Linked DNA regions of Homo sapiens. The protein of the gene in region 1 interacts with the protein of each later gene in a pairwise test. Each region holds a gene or a part of one and is shown on either strand. Other genes may lie near its edges.

Region 1 (3,680 bases):
GACACATGTGAAAACTGAATGTTTGCTCTTACATATACCAGAATCCTATGTGATAATTCCCAGGGCAGAATAAGGCCAGGTGACCAGGGCTGGGAGGTGGCACATACAGCACGCGTCTTCTTTTTTTCTTTTGGAGGCAGGGTCTTGCTCTGTCACCCAGGCTGGTGTGCAGTGGCGCGACTCACAGCTCACTGCAGCCTCGACTGGCTGGGCTCAAGCAGTCCTCCTAACTCAGCCTCCCGAGTAGCTAGGACCACAGGTACGCACCACTGCGCCCAGCTAATTTTTTAATTTTTGTAGAGATGGGGTCTTGCTCTGTTGCTCAGGCTGGTCTGGCCTCCTGGCCTTAAACGATTCTCCCACCTCGGCCTCCCAAAGTGCTGGGATTACAGGCGTGGGCCACAGGGTCCAGCTAGGACGTGTGTCTTTAAGGGCATTTTTGTCTCTCTTTTGATGAAATCTGCATCGTAAACTCGCAGCCCTGGCTTACTGTAACCCCTTTGGGGTTAAGCTTCCACACCTCTGTGCACTGGTCGCTTTGCTGCCTGGTTCATTTTAGAAAGTGTTTTGTTGAGTGGGGAGGAAACCCAACATTATTGAGTCCCTCCCTGACTTGGCGTCTGAGGGCGTTGTCATTTGGGATTCAGGCAGGAACTGCCTGGGCCCTGTGGCCTGCAGAACGGCGGCAGGAAGCTAGGTTTTTGTTGGCTTACGGTACAGATATTGACCTGTGTTCATTTGGTCCCTTGTAGCAAGAAGCCACCGCAGAGCAAGAGAACAAACGGTATGAAAATGAATATGAAAGGGCCCGAAGGGAGGCGCTAGAAAGGATGAAAGCTGAAGAGGAGAGGAGGCAGCTGGAGGACAAGCTCCAGGCCGAGGCACTGCTGCAACAGATGGAGGAGCTGAAGCTGAAGGAGGTGGAGGTGGGCACAAGCCCCTCTCAGCCGTGACCTCCTCCACAGCTGCTCGTTAGCATGAGATGGGCACTTGAGAGGCTGCCCTAAGAAGAGGCCATAGCAGGGCTGAGATTCTGCAAAGGGCGGCAGCAGCCGGGTTCTCCCTCTCACATGCATCCCCATCTGCCTTGTGCTTTCCCATCCTCCTCGTTTGCGTGCCTGAATTCCAGAACATTAACGACATGGAGCCAGTAGCTGTTCTCTTAGAGGTGGTTAGCGGCCTGCTGTTGGAGAACCTTCTTAGAATCTGGATTTTCCAGTGCACTGAGTAGACACAATTTAATCGGGTGGTCTAGCACCCAGCTCTCCGTGGGGAGCAGGTTTCGGGTCTCGAGGCATAACTGAGGGTTTTTGGTCCAGGGGCTGTTTTTGGAGAACATGGCACAGTTTCCTTGAAAGAGATCTTTCTATTTAGAAGAGGGAGGCCCATGCTCCTGTGACCTCACTTCCCCTTGCCCAGGCCGTGATTTAGCAACTACATTCTTAGTGCCTACTGCTTATTCTAGGTGCTGAGCACTGGGTTGGGAACTAGAGATAGAGCCTGACCAAGGCCCACAGTCCTGACCTCCTGGTGGGGGCTGTGTCAGGTGGAGGACAGTTGTTAAGTTACAGTAAGAGTGGACCAGTACAGGATCCTGTGGGAGTTTAGAGTTCAGGGCTCAGAAAGGCCCTTGCAGGAAATGGCTCAGAGGGGATTGGATGAGTAAGTGAGTGGTGGGAGGGGATCGTGACCACCTGCATGGCCAGGCCTCTGTTGGTGTAGTGTCTGCGAAAAATGGAGATGGAGAATGAAGGAAGATCTGATTCCCACGATCTCAGATCTCAGTCGAGCTTACTCTCATCATCACCACAGGCGACCAAACTAAAGAAGGAGCAGGAGAATCTGTTGAAGCAGCGGTGGGAGCTAGAGAGGCTGGAGGAAGAGCGAAAGCAGATGGAAGCCTTCCGGCAGAAGGCAGAGCTGGGGTGTGTGTCAGAAGGGCCCCCCACTCTTCCCAGGCGGGTGGGCCTCTTGCTTTTTCAGACTTGCATTCGTGTTGCTGAAACCATAAAGGAGACAGCCTGGTCAGCAGTTATCTAACTTCTATTTAATTCTTTCTGAGATACTGAAGGCAGCCCACATTTGATTCTCCTTCAGGCGTTTCTTGAGACATCAGTATAACGCTCAACTCAGCAGACGCACACAGCAGATCCAAGAGGAGCTGGTAAGTCTGAAGAGACAGCCTGACATCTTTCTTAGCCTCTTTTGTAAAAAAGGCCTTCCATTGCTTAGTATATGAGTGCATTCTCGTAAGAATGAAGACAGTGAGGGGTTGGGGGAAAGGGGAGATGTTGGTCAAAGGATACATCCCTCGGTTGGGAGATCTGGGAGTAGTGTCCATCATGTTGATCACAGCTGATGATACCATATTGTATTCTTGAAATTTGCTAAGAGAGCCAATCTTAAGTGTTGTCACCATGAAAACCAACTGTGAGGTGATGGATATGTTAATTAGCTTGACCGTAAGGATCCTTTCCCAGTGTCTGTGTGTATACATAGATGGATAGATACAGGTATCAAAACATCAAATTATTTTTCAGTAACTGTGTTACTTAAAAAGCAGCACAACACAAAGTGAGATCACCCCCTTGACCAGCACCTGCAATCTCTGTCTATCCCCAGAGGTGCCTGTTTAGTTCACATCTTTCTAGATGTATTTACATACAGAGAGGTGGAGGTTTTTGTTTTTGTATTTAAATCTAATTGAGGTTGCATTCCTCAGCATCTTCAATTAACACTAAATCTCTTAATTTTTAAAAAGATCGGCCAGGTGCGGTGGCTCCCGCCTATAATCCCAGCACTTTGAGAGGCCAAGGCAGGCGGATCACCTGAGGTCAGGAGTTTGAGGCCAGCCTGAATGACATGGTGAAACCCCATCTCTACTAAAAATACAAAAACTAGCCGGACATGGCCGGGCGTGGCGGCTCACACCTGTAATCCCAGCACTTTGGGAGGCTGAGGCGGGCGGATCACCTGTGGTCAGGAGTTTGAGACCAGCCTGGCCAATGTGGTATAACCCTGTCTCTACTAAAAAATACAAAAATTAGCCGGGTGTGGTGGCAGGCGCCTTAATCCCAGCTACTTGGGAGGCAGAGACAGAAGAATCATTTGAACCTGGTAGGTGGAGGTTGCAATAAGCTGAGATCAAGCCGTTGCACTCAAGCCTGGGGGACAAGAGCGAGACTTCTCTCAAAACAAGAACAACAACAACAAAAACTAGCCAGGCATGGTGGTGCACACCTGTAATCCCAGATACTCGGGGGGCTGAGACAGGAGAATTGCTTGAACCCAGGAGGTGGAGGTTGCAGTGAGCCGAGATTGCACCACTGCACTCAAGCCTGGGCAACAGAGTGAGACTCTGTCTCAAAAAAACAAAAAAAGGTCATTATGCTTAGATTGAACCTGTTCTTTTCAGATAGCTCCTTTGTATTCCTAAGTACTTTGATGAGCTCCCTTGAAGTGAGGGAGACAGACCTAAGCTGCCCTTCCCATCCCTGCCCACTGCGGTCAGGGCAGGACATGGGGCACAGTGGCATGGTTGGTCCTGGTGTGCAGCTGTTTTTTATGGGGTCTTGCTCTGTTGTCCAGGCTGGATTGCAATGGCGCAATCACGGCTCACTGCAGCCTCAACCTGCCAGGCTCAAGCCATCCTCCCACCTCAGCCTCTCGAGTAGCTGGGA
Region 2 (3,979 bases), on another chromosome or scaffold:
TTTTTTTTTGCAATATGACCCCGTCTCTCTGAAGTGGGACATTCGGACGGATGGAGCCCTCAGCGTGTCTTTTCAGCAGGAGCAGAACCGATGAGAGCCGCCCTTACCGTTGGTCTCCGGATCCCCCAGTCCCATCCCGCCGTTTTCGGCTGTCTTCCTAACCGTCCTGTCTTCTCTTGGCGCTCTTTCCTTCCACCTTTCCCAAGAGTCCTGGTTGCACGTTTTAAGTCATATATTTTCGTCCCCCTGAAAATGATGGCAAGCCCAGTTTCTCCTGAGCATTCAGACCCCCAGGCCCCAGCACTTGGCGTTTTCAGGAGGCCCTGTTCTTAGAGCCCCTGACAAAGGCAGCACTTATTTCCTGGGCTGGTGCGCCCCAAAACACGGCCCCGACACTTAGTGTGGCCCCAGGCCCCAGCGAGCCTCGCCCTCCCAGTTTTGCTCTGCCCAGCAGTGTTGGTGCCCAGAGATGACAAGGGCCAGGGAGCCTGGCCCGGGTGTGAGAATTCAGAGATTCTGGCCTCCAGCTGTCACCACACCGTAACGGGGCCATGTAACTGTGCAGCATGGACAGGGATGCGACGGGGCAGCTGGCTGTGTCCATGGCCAGGTGGCCAGGGTCAGGGCTGCAAGCCAGGGGTCCAGGGCCCTTCCGTTCAGCCCAAATGCTGCCCCAATGCTAACTCCTTGGATTGTCAACCCCCATCCCCCAAATGGAAATTCCGAAGGAGGCCTCCTCGCACCTGCCCTCCGCTGCTCCTCAGACCCCAGCCCCCAGCGAGCCGACGTCCCCACCCGTTCCTGCTCTCATCCCCAGGTTGGGCACGTGGGGTTCCTCCTCTGTGGGCCTGGCAGACCCTTCATGAGTGGGACCCAAGATATCACTGACTTCAACCCAGAGGATCGAGCCCCTGCACCCTGCCTGGGGCCCTGGGGTGTGGAGCAGTGGCTGGGGTGGGCGTGGTGTGGCCTGAGAGACTGCCCAGCTGGAGAGGCCTTCCTTTACAAGGCCACGCGTGCAGCTGTCCCATCCAGACCCCGACTGGCCAAGACCTCCACGTCCCCAGAGTCCAGCCCTGGAAATTCCAAGGGCCCTGGCGTCCTCTGCCTTCCCCGCTTCCCCATGAGCGTCTGCAAAACACTTGCCTGAATACATATCACGTATTTTAGACTCGAAGCCTCAAAGCACTGGATTGTGGTCCCCTGCCCCCTCTGTCCCGTCCCCCTGCCCAAGTGACTGAAACCTACTGAGCTATATTCACTGTGCTGTCCTAGGGGGAGGGAGAGCAGAGCTCGCCCCTGCACTGCAGCCTTGTGGGGGAGGGCAAGGCTCTCCTCCCAGCCAGGGACGCCAGGACATAGCTGCTCCTGGTCAGTGGAGGTCAGCCGGGTATCAAAAGCCATGAAACTGTGTCTCTGTAGCAATGAGTGATACTGTGACAAAACCATCCTTGCATTCTTCCTAGAAGAGTTCCTCTGCTCCTTCCATTCCATTTTTGTGTTTGTTTTGTTCTTTTCTGTCACTGATCCGTATTACCACTTTTGGAAAAAAATAAATAAATAAATAAATAAAAGGCAGCTTGAGTTTCCAAACGTGTGATTCACTTGTGAACAAAAGTCATTCTAACAATTGCCTTCAGCGTCACGTGCATTGCCACTGCGCTTTCGGCACGAGGGATGCTGAGCCCTGGTGTCAGAGTCGTAATTTAAAGCGTGTGTGTATATGGACTTTGTCCCTTAAGGTCGATATAAAGAATCCTCGCAGAATCACAGACCTGTGCCGCCCGCCACCTTCTGCCATTGTTACATTACAGATTTGGTTTAGTTTTGTTTTGTTTTGTTTTTTCTTTTAGAACTGTATAGTATTGAAAAAGAAATCAAATGTAAATGTCTGGTTTTCATATAATGTTTAAAAAGACCATTGAGAAGGAGGCTGGCGCTCGCCCCATGTCCCCCTTGATTGTAAATTGCTTCTGTTCTGTTTATAAGTAAACTGTGCATGACTCCTGCTTAGCGGTCATTATCGTGTCTGTTGGTGAAATTTTTATTAAAAGGAAAATTCTGTAGATGCACTTATTGAATATGTGATTAGGATCTACGTCTGAGACTAGGAGTCCTGAACTGCTGACGCGAAAGAGGCGCAGTTCCCAATTAATACGGAAATCGCTGTGGGAGAAGAATGAAATAAGACGTGAAGTGTAGGAAATCATGAAAAGAACAATTTTGCAAATTGCATTCTGATGCTTGTGATGAACACAAATGTACTTGTGTAGAGACATTTCCTTAAGAGAAAGCCTAGGAGAAGCCGATTTGGAGGTTAATGCTGTAGAATAGGACTGTATACCAAATGTAATCTTTCCAATGCTCCAATGAATTTATACATGAGATTGATATGCAATAAATCTGTGTGCTTTTCTAAGCCTCGGTGCCCGCGAGCTTCATTGAGGGAGAGGCCCCAGGCCTGTGGAAGGGAGAGGAGGAGCAAGCCAGGGCTCGGCCGAGGTCCAGGCTCCCTGGCTTTGACTGAGGAGTCCCGGGGCCAGGCCCTGATGCCCTTGGAGCTTTGTTCCCTCCACCCTCCGGGGCAGACTCCTGGCTATTCCCATTTTCCAGAAAAGAATAAGCTCAGGAAGGCATCAACTCCCTGGATGGCCCCAGAGCGAGCACAGTGACCTCCAGGTGTGTCCCTCTGCCAAGCATGACAGCCTCCAGATGCAGCAGCCTCCAGGCATGTCCCCCAACTGTGCCTGCCTCCAGGTACACAGGACCCAGGGCCCACCCCACAGGCCTTGCCCCAAGGCTTCCTGGGGATGCAGCATTCCCTGTTGGAGGTGCTGGGGGAACCCGTCTTCCATGCCAGCAGTCCCCACGCTTTTTAGCACCAGGGACTGGTTTCGTGGCAGACAGTTTTTCCAAAGACCAGGGGATGGATGGTTTGGGGCTGATTCAAATGCATTACATATATCGTCCACTTTATTTCCATTATTATTACATTAGAGTATATAATGAAATAATTCTACAACTCACCATAGTGTACAATCCGTGGGAGTCCTGAGCTTGTTTTCCTGCAACTAGGCCTTCCCATCTAAGGGTGATGGGAGACAGTGACAGATCATCAGGCATTAGATGCTCACAAGGAGCGTGCAGCCTCGATCCCTCGCACTCGCAGTTCACAATAGGGTTCCCGCCCCCATGAGAATCTCACGCCGCCACTGATCTGATGGGAGGTGGAGTGCAGACGGTGATGCAGACGATGGGGCGTGGCTGTAAACACAGAGGAAGCTGGGTTCCGCTGCGCCCCCCATGCTGTGTGGCCCGGTTCCTAACAGGCCAAGAACTGGTCCTGGCCCATGGCCTGGGGTCTGGGGGCCTCTGTTCTAGGCCAGTCCTCAACCCACCCCTTCCTAAGGGTGGCCCTCCCCATGTCAGCCTCCCTGAAGTCTGTGTCCACCAGCACCTCACATGGCCTGATGCTGCCCTGACAAGGGACAGCCACAGGGGTGGGATAGGGGGTGAGCTAGAGGCCCCGGGGCTGGAGCAGACCCAGTCCCCTCAGGGGCTTCTCTTGTCTACCCCCAGACTGCCCCTGGGATTCCTTCCTGGGGCCCTCCTGCCTCTGGGAGAGGCTCCATTCCCCTACCCTGATTCTGCTCTGACCCAGAAGCCTAGGGGGCGTAAACCTCAAAGGGGAATGTCCAGCCAGACCGAGCCCAGCCTCCCCAACCAGGACTGCCCCAAACCGTCTCACCCACGTAGGCCCCCACTGGCTCCCTGCTGACACAGAGTTTAACTGATGTCACCCAGGTGACCTGGCCTCCCACCCCCACCCCTACCCAGGGCCTCTGAATGTCTCCTGGGCTCCCTCCTGTCCACCCCTCCCAGTGGGCCGGGCCTCTGGAGCTGTGCCCCTCCACCTCTCCCCTCCCTTACCCCCGAGTGCCTGGAACACAGGCCTGGCTGGGGTTCCAGGGAGGTGGGC
Region 3 (4,560 bases), on another chromosome or scaffold:
CATGTCTAAAACACCAAAAGCAGTGGCAACCAAAGCCAAAATTGACAAATGGGATCTAATTAAACTAAAGAGCTTCTGCACAGCAAAAGAAACTACCATCAGAGTGAACAGGCAACCTACAACATGGGAGAAAATTTTCGCAACCTACTCATCTGACAAAGGGCTAATATCCAGAATCTACAAGGAACTCCAACAAATTTACAAGAAAAAAACAAACAACCCCATCAAAAAGTGGGCGAAGGACATGAACAAGTATTCTTTAGAGAGACAGAGTACCACTGTCCGATTCATAGGGACCACACTTAGATGATAAAAGGCAGAAGTGCATCTTCAATTATGTATATAGACATCCTTTCAAAAGCAAAGAAGATTATAGAAAGGTTACTAGTTTAGAGAGTTCTGAGAAAACACAGAGGTGTACATGAGAAAGAACACAGAATAAAAAAGAACGGTAGTTAGAAACAAACAAAATAATGATTGTACTTAAGAGTTTGTGAAATTTCCCCCACATCAATTTGATCTCTATTCACTAAGATAAAAAATTAAACAAACTCAGGATTACCAACCAAAAAGGAAAAACTTTTAGAAATTTAAAAGCACTATATAAAAATAAGATGTTATTATTATTTTTTAGTAAAGCAAAAGTCCCTATTGAGAATTAAATTACATTTACCTTTGCCTGTTAAGTAGAATTTTTGTTTGTTTATTTTGCTCTGGGGAAGGTAGAGTCTTTTCTCATCTTCTTTTAAAATAAAAAGACTCTTAAAAGAGGGCCCCCTTTACTCCTCAGAGGCAAGGACTTTGGCTTCTTTATCTCTGTATCCCCAGTACCTAGAAAAGTGTCTGGTGCTCAAATGTTTTTTGAGTTGAACTCAACAATGGAAGGGAAAAGAAGCGAAATAGTTGGCATAGCTCTGGTGAGAGTTTGTTTCAGATCCAAAGAACAATATGAAATAAGAGATTAACAGGAGGAAGAGAATAAACAGCAAAGGGTTTATATTACTTGGAGAGGAGGGAAGGTGACAAGTATGGGAGATTAGGAAGTTTTCTTTGTCCAGGTACGAGAAACCAAGCAGAGAGATCTAGATCTTAAAAATCATACAAAAATGCTATTGGTCTGATTTGGAGACAATTTTCTTAGATTGAAAGAAGAAAGGTAAACAGCTAAAAGCAAACCAATAATCTGGTGTATGGGAGACGGTGATATTGATAGCTCCTAAAAGGGGTAACATTTAAGAATCTGATAGGGGAATTCAGGCAAAGGTAAGGAATTCTGTCTTGTAGAAATTAAGTTAATGAGATATTTAAGGATGTGGGAAAAAGAAAGCAAATGCAATTGAGAGAAGAAAAACCAGATAAGTAATAATTTCAGATGGCTATCAAAGCTATGGAAACAGATGAGTTCTTCCTTAGAAGATGTGGTAAGAAACAAAAGTGGAGTCCAAACGCGTATATAATCACAGGCAGACAATGAAGATAAAAGATATTTAAAAACATTTTTGGAAAGAGTGGTCCATAGGAAGGGGAATTTTAAAAGAAGAGATATCTAATCTTCTTAAAAGAAGAGGCCACACCAAAAGTAACCTTTGCTTAGGAAGGAATTAGCCATTACAAACTTTTGAAATCAAGACGATGCTGGAGTGGAGAAAAGGATTCTCTAAAGAGAATCAAAAAGAACTGCATCAGGGAAGGCAAACATATCAAATAGCACACTGAACTCTTGTCTTTTCTTTGAAGGTTGCACATTACCTGTTCAAAAGCTGTTGAAGCTTTTCTCCCTTGCTCTAGATCAACTGCAACTGCCATAAGTAAACATGTTTTCCGTGCAATCAGAATTACTTGATCAGAAGGACAAAACTGGGACATCTGATAAGAAGTAACCAGAACATCAATGAATAGTGAGAATTCTGCCAGGTGAACACAAACAATCAGAATGAAAATCAGCAACTTCCTGTTTGAATGAGAAAATTCAGCTGGAAAAGCACATGTCACCATAGAAATGATATAAACTATAATACTGATTTATGCTTTTAATTTTATATTACTTTCCATTGTTTTTAGTACCTTCCTAGAGATAAAAAGCTTCATTTCTTCACAGTATTCCTATCTTTTCCAGTGACAAGTAGTATCATTCGCCCTTGTATTTCTATCTAGTGATTTACTTCTTGGTTTATGTTGTAATTTGTAAGTGATTTTTCCCCTGGCAAATAAGATTTCCACCTTTGTATTGAATAGAGCCAAAATTAGTTCATATATTGTCATGGTTGAAAGAGGCATTGTCAAATCTTGACAGGCATTAGTCATGACCTCATCATTAACATTGTATAGTTTTAGGAAAAACTCCCAGCTACTACAATAAAACTCTAGGCCATTTGGATTCTTACACGCCAATCCTACAAGTCCCATCACAAATGCCAAAACTAAAACCAATTTATTTCACTTAATTAAAATGGCAGTTATGCCTAAACTTGCAAAGACTATTTCTTAATCTCCCCAAACATTCAGTGATCATAATCATCATTGTTATTAAATTAATAGCATTTTAAGACAACCAATCTCTTTAGGTCTCTGATTACTCTTATGTGAGATGAAGGAGTTGTGCTAGATAGTCTTTATAGTTCTTTCTAGCTCTAAAACTCTTAACATTTAATTGATCTCAACATATCATACTGTGTATTCCTGAATGTGTATGAAGGATATTCTTTAGTCCTTCTCCTTTTATCTTCCTGTCAATACTTGGTCCTCTTTCTGGCATTTAACCTCTACCTTGGAGGCCAACGACTATTTAAAAATGCTTATAATTAAATAACAAACTCACAAATCGCTACACTCAGGACCTGCTATAGGAAAGTTATAAAGGAGGCCTAAGCTTCTTATCTCTTTTTTCAGCCCCTGCTATCCCCAGATACTTATTCTATGTTCTTGTAGACTTATTCCCATAACTCTTCATAATGTGTTGGTAATTAACAACTACTTAGAGTATTCCCCTCCTAAAGATATTTACATTTTAATATAGGACTTTGGGAGGCTGAGATCCCTTCAAAGGCAAAGAAATAAGTCTTAAATGGTAGAACTTTAGGCTCCCTGATGAATGTTTCTGATATTTTGGTATAGAAAGATATGCCCCACATTCTTATGTTATACCCTAAAAGGAACAAATTCTTCTTAGGTCATTCCTGCTTACATATATATTAAAAGTTCCTAGATCAAGAGACAATCCTAGTCTATATTTAGCCCTTTACTATAGCCATAGTGGTTATAGCCTTGTTGTGGTCCATACATGAGATACTTATTAAAAGAAACTTACCTTATAAGAAAGTATAAAAAACTCTCTCATCATCACTGGATCTTTGTCACATTGCACAGCCAAGTTCCAAGCTGGAAATTAACATGAAATAACATAATAATATGAAATTATGAAAATCTACCATTTAGTCTGTACCATTACAATTTCTGATACTTACACCTTTGATATTAACATACTAGTAAGGGGTTTCTCAAGGTTTAAACAATTAACTTTAGGTTTTAAAGAAAAATTTTCCAGGTAAATTTAGAGACCCTCGTCAATTCCAATCTTCAACACTAGACCAATGACCAAGGGAGGTACTGCTGAATTTTTTAAAATTGGGGACATGCAATAAGAATTCTTAGCTGAGGCCAGGCTTGGTGGCTCATTCCTATAATCCCAGAACTTTGGGAGACCAAGGCAGGAGGATTGCTGGAGGCCAGGAGTTCAGGACCAGCCTGGGCAACAGAGAGAGACTCCGTCTATACAAAAAAATTAAAAAACAAACCAAAACAAAACAAAACTAGCCAGGTGTGGTGGCACACAACTATAGTCCCAGAAGACTGACACCAGGAATTTGAGGTTACAGTGAGCTATGATGCCACCACTGCACTCCAGTCTGGCAGCAAAACTCCGTCTCAAAAAAAAAAAAAATTCTTAATTGACACTAATCTATCTAAAAATGAAGATCAACATGGATAGAGCTCACTAACTCGCAGTGGTGAAAGTAAGTTAAAATTCACCTAAGAACAAGGTACACTGTAATCAAGAGTTGAGAAAAATTACTGGAGAGATTCATATCTTCCAAAGAGCAGTAGAAGCCCTCATCAGGCATCAGTCAGCATCATCTTCCCCTTGGAAAATCCAAATTAAAATGCAGTAAAGTAAAAACATTCCTTTTCAAACCTTCAAAAGATTAAAGTCACCAAACTTGTCTATATTTTAAATGTTTGTTATTTTTCATTATTTGCATCAGTTTCTTAGAAGTCAGATTGCAGTATTCATTCCCTTTCTCCCAGGATTAAAGCCCTATTAAACCTCATAACACAGGGAGAGGTTCATGTAGAATCAGTCCACTTTGTGGCACTGCTGCTTAATTGCTCATGCTTACTTATCACTGTAGTAACTGCCTCCGCAAGTTTTAAAATCATTTTTATTGAAATAGAGCCATTATAAAGTATATTACACAACTCATAATTGTACAGCTTGATGAATTTTCACAAAGTGGACATATCCATGCGTCTGGCACCCACATTAAGAAAGATCTTGAACAT
Region 4 (4,560 bases), on another chromosome or scaffold:
TGTGTCCTGTCGAATGTGATGTCTCTAAGGATGAAGCAAGATGACACCTGTACAGCCCAGGGCCCGGCCCCAAGTGAGCTCCAGAGACCAGGGCCCGGCCCCGAGTGAGCTCCAGAGACCGAGGCCTGGCCCCGAGTGAGCTCCAGAGACTGGGGCCTGGCTCTGAGTGAGTGCTAGTCAAGTGTATGATTACTTTCCTCTGGCCCAAGACTCCATCCCAGATGACTTGGCGACTCTGACCCCATCAAACGCTCACACCCAGCTTGTATAAATTCCATTCGTTGATTGGTTTTAATTCGTTGAGCAACAGGTTTTGTTGGACAGCTTATGAGAATAAAAACCAGGGAAGCTGAGGCTCATTACCCTGCCCAGGGTCAAAGACCCGGCAGGTGACAGAGCTGAGATGTGACCCCATTCGACTGCCCTCACTGCCTCCCTGCACCTCAGATTCAGACCCCTCCTTAGGGCCAGGCTCTCTCTCTCTTTTTTTTTTTTTGAGATGGAGTTTCACTCTTGCCGCCCAGGTTGGAGTGCAGTGGTGCGATCTTAGCTCACTGCAGCCTCCACCTCCTAGGTTCAAGCGATTCTCCTGCCTCAGTCTCCCAAGTAGCTGGGATTACAGGCACCCACCACCACACATGGCTAATTTTTTTTATTTTTATTTTTAGTAGAGGCAGGGTTTCTCCATGTTGGCCAGGCTGGTTTCAAACTCCTGGACTCAGGTGATCCGCCCGCCTTGGCATCCCAAAGTGCTGGGATTACAGACGTGAGCCACCACGCCTGGCCAGGGCCAGGTTCTCTACAAGCACTGTCCTGTTTCCAGCTCCCCAAGAGCTTGGAGGCAGCCGGGGTTGTCTCTATTTGATGGGAAAACAGAGCGAGGCCGAGTGCTGGGCCCTCGTGCACAGATGGCCTGGAGAAGCAGTCCAGGTGCATCCTCCTGGAAGGTTGCTGCAACTTCCCAGGCTTGCTCAGGGCCTACCAGTTGCTTCTGCTTTGTGAGAGGGTAGGGTTCTGGCAGGCAGGAGTGTACCCCTCACTTGCCTTTGTCTCCCTGTCCCCACAGAGGAGAGGCGAGCCAGGGAGTGGCTACTAGATGCTCCTGAGCTCCCCGAGGGCCATCTGGAGGACTGGCTGGAGAAGAGAGCCAAGCGGCTGAGCTCAGCCCCAAGTAGCAGGTACAGGTCCCCAGGGTTCCCTCCCGCTGTGCCCCCTGGGGGCAAAACCCCAGCCCGCCTTCCCCTTCCTGAGGCTCAGGAATCTCCATGAACTGCCCAGGCCCAGGGGCCGAATAAAGTTGCCTACACATAGCTCCCCGAGGAGCCCTTGGGGCCCCAGGCCCTGGCCAGAGGCTGAGGGGTGTTTGAAAGAGCCTCTCCCAAAGCTGGGCCCCTGTTGGAGTCTGTGCTGGCTGGAGGGGAGGCAGGCGGCAGAGCTGATTTGGCTGCAAGTCACAAGTCCGTTGCCAGAGGGAGGGGCCTGGGCTGTGGTCACCATGCACTGCTGCCCACTGTTGCCTCTAGGGCCTTGCAGAAGGGAAAACAGGGAGGGTGCGACTTGCCCGAGGGCACACAGACGGGAAAATGTAGAGCCGGGATTGCACAGGCGTGATGACGAGGTCCTGGTCCCACTGCCTTTCTAAGGAAGGGGGTCTGGAGATGGCCCCAGCCCTCGGGACGCTCACAAGTAGAAGGGGAGCTGCTGGATCGGGGTCCTTGGGGTGTGTGCTTCGTGATGTCCCTGGTCCTCCTCTTTGAGGGAAGGGCCTCGGGTGATATTCACATCAGAACGGGGCACAGGGCAGGCAGGGGCAGACAAAGGCTGGCGGCCAAAACCGAAGCCTGAGCTCCTGGGCTCTTCCTCCAGCAGTTGAAGGAGGGAGGGGAGGAAAAGGGGATAAAGCTGCGCCCAGGAGCCGCATGCGACTTTGAACACGTTTTCCCATCCCGACTACCTTGCTTTCCCCATCTTGCAACGGGCTTCAGACCTGACTACCTCTGTGGTGTGGCTTCACAAAATGGTGGCCTGGCCTGGGCCAAGGGGACCTGGCCAGATAGTCTGGGGGAAGAGGCCTTCCCTTGGAGCTCTGCCAGGAGGTGAAGGCCAAACTTCTTGCCTTCTCTGTGCTCCAGTGAAAGAGACTATGAGGGTGTTTTTTTTCTTTCTTTCTTTCTTTTTTTGTGATGGAGTCTTGCTGTATTGCCCAGGCTGGAGTGCAGTGGTGTGATCTCAGCTCACTGCAACCTCTGCCTCTGGGTTCAAGCGATTCTTCTGCCTCAGCTTCCCAAGTAGCTGGGATTACAGGCACCCACCATCATACCTGGCTGATTTTTGTATTTTTGTAGAGATGGGGTTTTACCATGTTGGCCAGCCTGGTCTTGAACTCCCGACTTCAGGTGATCCGCCTGCCTCGGCCTCCCAAAGTGCAACGTGTTGGGATTACAGGCATGAGCCACCACACTCGGCTTTTTTTTTTTTTTTTGAGACGGATTCTTGCTCTACCGCCCAGGCTGGAGTACAGTGGTGCAATTGTCTCATTGCAAACTCCACCTCTTGGGGTTCACGCCATTCTCCTGCCTCAGCCTCCTGAGTAGCTGGGACTACAGGCACCCGCCACCACGCCCGGCTAATTTTTTTGTGTGTTTTTAGTGGAGACGGGGTTTCACCATGTTACCCAGGATGGTCTCAATCTCCTGCCCTCCTGATCCACCCGCCTCAGCCTCCCAAAGTGCTGGGATTACAGGTGTCAGCCACCGCGCCCAGCCTTTTTTTTTTTTTTTTTTTTTTTGAGATGGAGTCTCGCTCTGTCACCCAGGCTGAAGTGCAGTGGCACGATCTCGGCTCACTGCAACCTCCGCCTCCTGGGTTCAAACATTTCTCATGCTGCAGCCTCCCAAGTAGCTGGGATTACAGGCATGCACCACCATGCCCGGCTAATTTTTGTATTTTTAGTAGAGACAGAGTTTCGCTGTGCTGGCCAGGCTGGTCTCGAACTCCTGACCTCAGGTGATTCACCTGCCTCAGCCTCCCAGAGTGCTGGGATTACAGGCATGAGCCACCGCACCCAGCCAGTAAAGGTGTTTTAAAACTAACTTTGTCTTTTACCTTTATTTTAAATCCGTGTTCAGTTTTTGTCTCCCCACCTTAAAAGTATATGTGGTACAGACATGACTCAAACGTTGGAGTGTGACATTCTCTCCTCCTGGTCCTGTCTGAAGGGTCCCGTCTAAAGGGGTTCTATCCTGTCTTTGTGCATGTGAGCACCTCCTTTGGGACTGGTTGCTGTCCAGGGATCCACGTCCTACACCCCAGACTCCTTCAGCCCGTGTGCAAAAGGCTTGAGCTGGTTGGAGGCTGCCCAGAAAGCTCTGGCCCCTGCACCGCTACTTGGACAGGATCTCCTATGAGTCCCATCCTCACTCTGCCACCTGCTAACCGAGTTGCACCAGCCACTCGCCTCCCTGCTCTGGGTCCATGGTGTCCTCCGCTGGGAGCGAGTCACAGAGGCCCGGCTGTCTCTTGGGGCTGTGACAAGGTTTCATGGAGTCCCTGTGGCTGAACTGGAGTGAGCACCAATGGGTGGGGTAGAGATGGGGTGCCCCAGAGTCCTTGCCTGGGTTCCAGACAGATGCATCCCTGTGCTGAAACAAGGCGCTATGAATTTGAGACTTGGGGGACTAGGGTACCAGATGGGGAAACTGAGGCTGAATGACTGGCTCCTAGTCACAGGTTGAAGTGGTGACCATATGAGAATTGAGTTTGGTGCTTACAGTGTTCCCAGTGTTTGGGGGCATTCAGGGAGATTGGCACCCCCATTTTGCATCTGAGGAATCTTAACCTCTCCAGGAGGTGGGGCCATCCTGATCACACGTGCCCTGCTGCCCTTAGCCCTCACTTGAGAGAGAGCTAGGTCCCTGCTCTGTGTCTAGACCCCAGGCTGCCTCTGACACCAAGTTCAGGGCTGGCCCAAGGCTCTGTGTGGCTGTGGGTAGTGGCAGTGGCAGCAGCAGGCTGCCCTGATGGCAGTGACTGTTTTGGGAATGATTGTTCTGCAACTGGAGCCCACCTTGGCTGTAGGGGGTCTGAGCCCTGTGCTCTGGGCCATTGTCCCTCTGGCCACCCAGCCTGGCCCCTTCCAGGGGATCTGCCACCTGCCTTCCTCCTGCCTCCTGAGGGCTTGGGGCCAAAATGAATTGTTCTCTAGGCAGAGCAGGCCTGTCCAGCCTTGAGAAAAAGGGGCTGTGGGAAGGGAGGTGACCGTTTATTCCTGCTTTTGCCATTGCTGCCTTGGGCGTCCATAACTGTCTCCGGGCAGGCTGGTCTCCTGAAGCCTAGCAGCCTTTCCCTCCGTCCTGGGCTTTGAGCCCCTCCCCTGCATCCACACCCCCTACCCTGCTTAATGGGAGGGGGTGGATTCCAGCCCCAGCCCCCGCAAGGCTACCTCACTTTCTTCCTGGCTCCCTCTCCAGCCTGGAGGCAGTGCTGCAGCAACAATGTTCTTCCTCCACCCTGGCTCTCCTGGGCACCCCAGCGGCCCCTCCCTGGTCTCCCACCTTCCCT

Evidence for each region. The genes of interacting proteins can lie anywhere in the genome.
Region 2: the proteins of TCHP (region 1) and PRDM16 interact in a two-hybrid assay, tested with the Homo sapiens proteins (one large-scale study listed by BioGRID).
Region 3: the proteins of TCHP (region 1) and TEX11 interact in a two-hybrid assay, tested with the Homo sapiens proteins (one large-scale study listed by BioGRID and IntAct).
Region 4: the proteins of TCHP (region 1) and ZMAT5 interact in binary tests that used the Homo sapiens proteins (3 or more experiments, as listed by UniProt).

The regions. Positions count from the first base shown.
Region 1 is NC_000012.12:109,906,774-109,910,453, forward strand, and holds part of TCHP (trichoplein keratin filament-binding protein), read left to right. Parts: intron 1-752; coding exon 753-926; intron 927-1,812; coding exon 1,813-1,925; intron 1,926-2,097; coding exon 2,098-2,164; intron 2,165-3,680. UniProt on the Homo sapiens protein: Tumor suppressor which has the ability to inhibit cell growth and be pro-apoptotic during cell stress. Inhibits cell growth in bladder and prostate cancer cells by a down-regulation of HSPB1 by inhibiting its phosphorylation.
Region 2 is NC_000001.11:3,436,203-3,440,181, forward strand, and holds the end of PRDM16 (histone-lysine N-methyltransferase PRDM16), read left to right. Parts: 3' UTR 1-2,419; downstream 2,420-3,979. UniProt on the Homo sapiens protein: Binds DNA and functions as a transcriptional regulator. Displays histone methyltransferase activity and monomethylates 'Lys-9' of histone H3 (H3K9me1) in vitro.
Region 3 is NC_000023.11:70,603,652-70,608,211, forward strand, and holds part of TEX11 (testis-expressed protein 11), read right to left. Parts: intron 3,379-4,560; coding exon 3,308-3,378; intron 1,867-3,307; coding exon 1,750-1,866; intron 1-1,749. UniProt on the Homo sapiens protein: Regulator of crossing-over during meiosis. Involved in initiation and/or maintenance of chromosome synapsis and formation of crossovers.
Region 4 is NC_000022.11:29,734,948-29,739,507, reverse strand, and holds part of ZMAT5 (zinc finger matrin-type protein 5), read left to right. Parts: intron 1-1,066; coding exon 1,067-1,178; intron 1,179-4,560.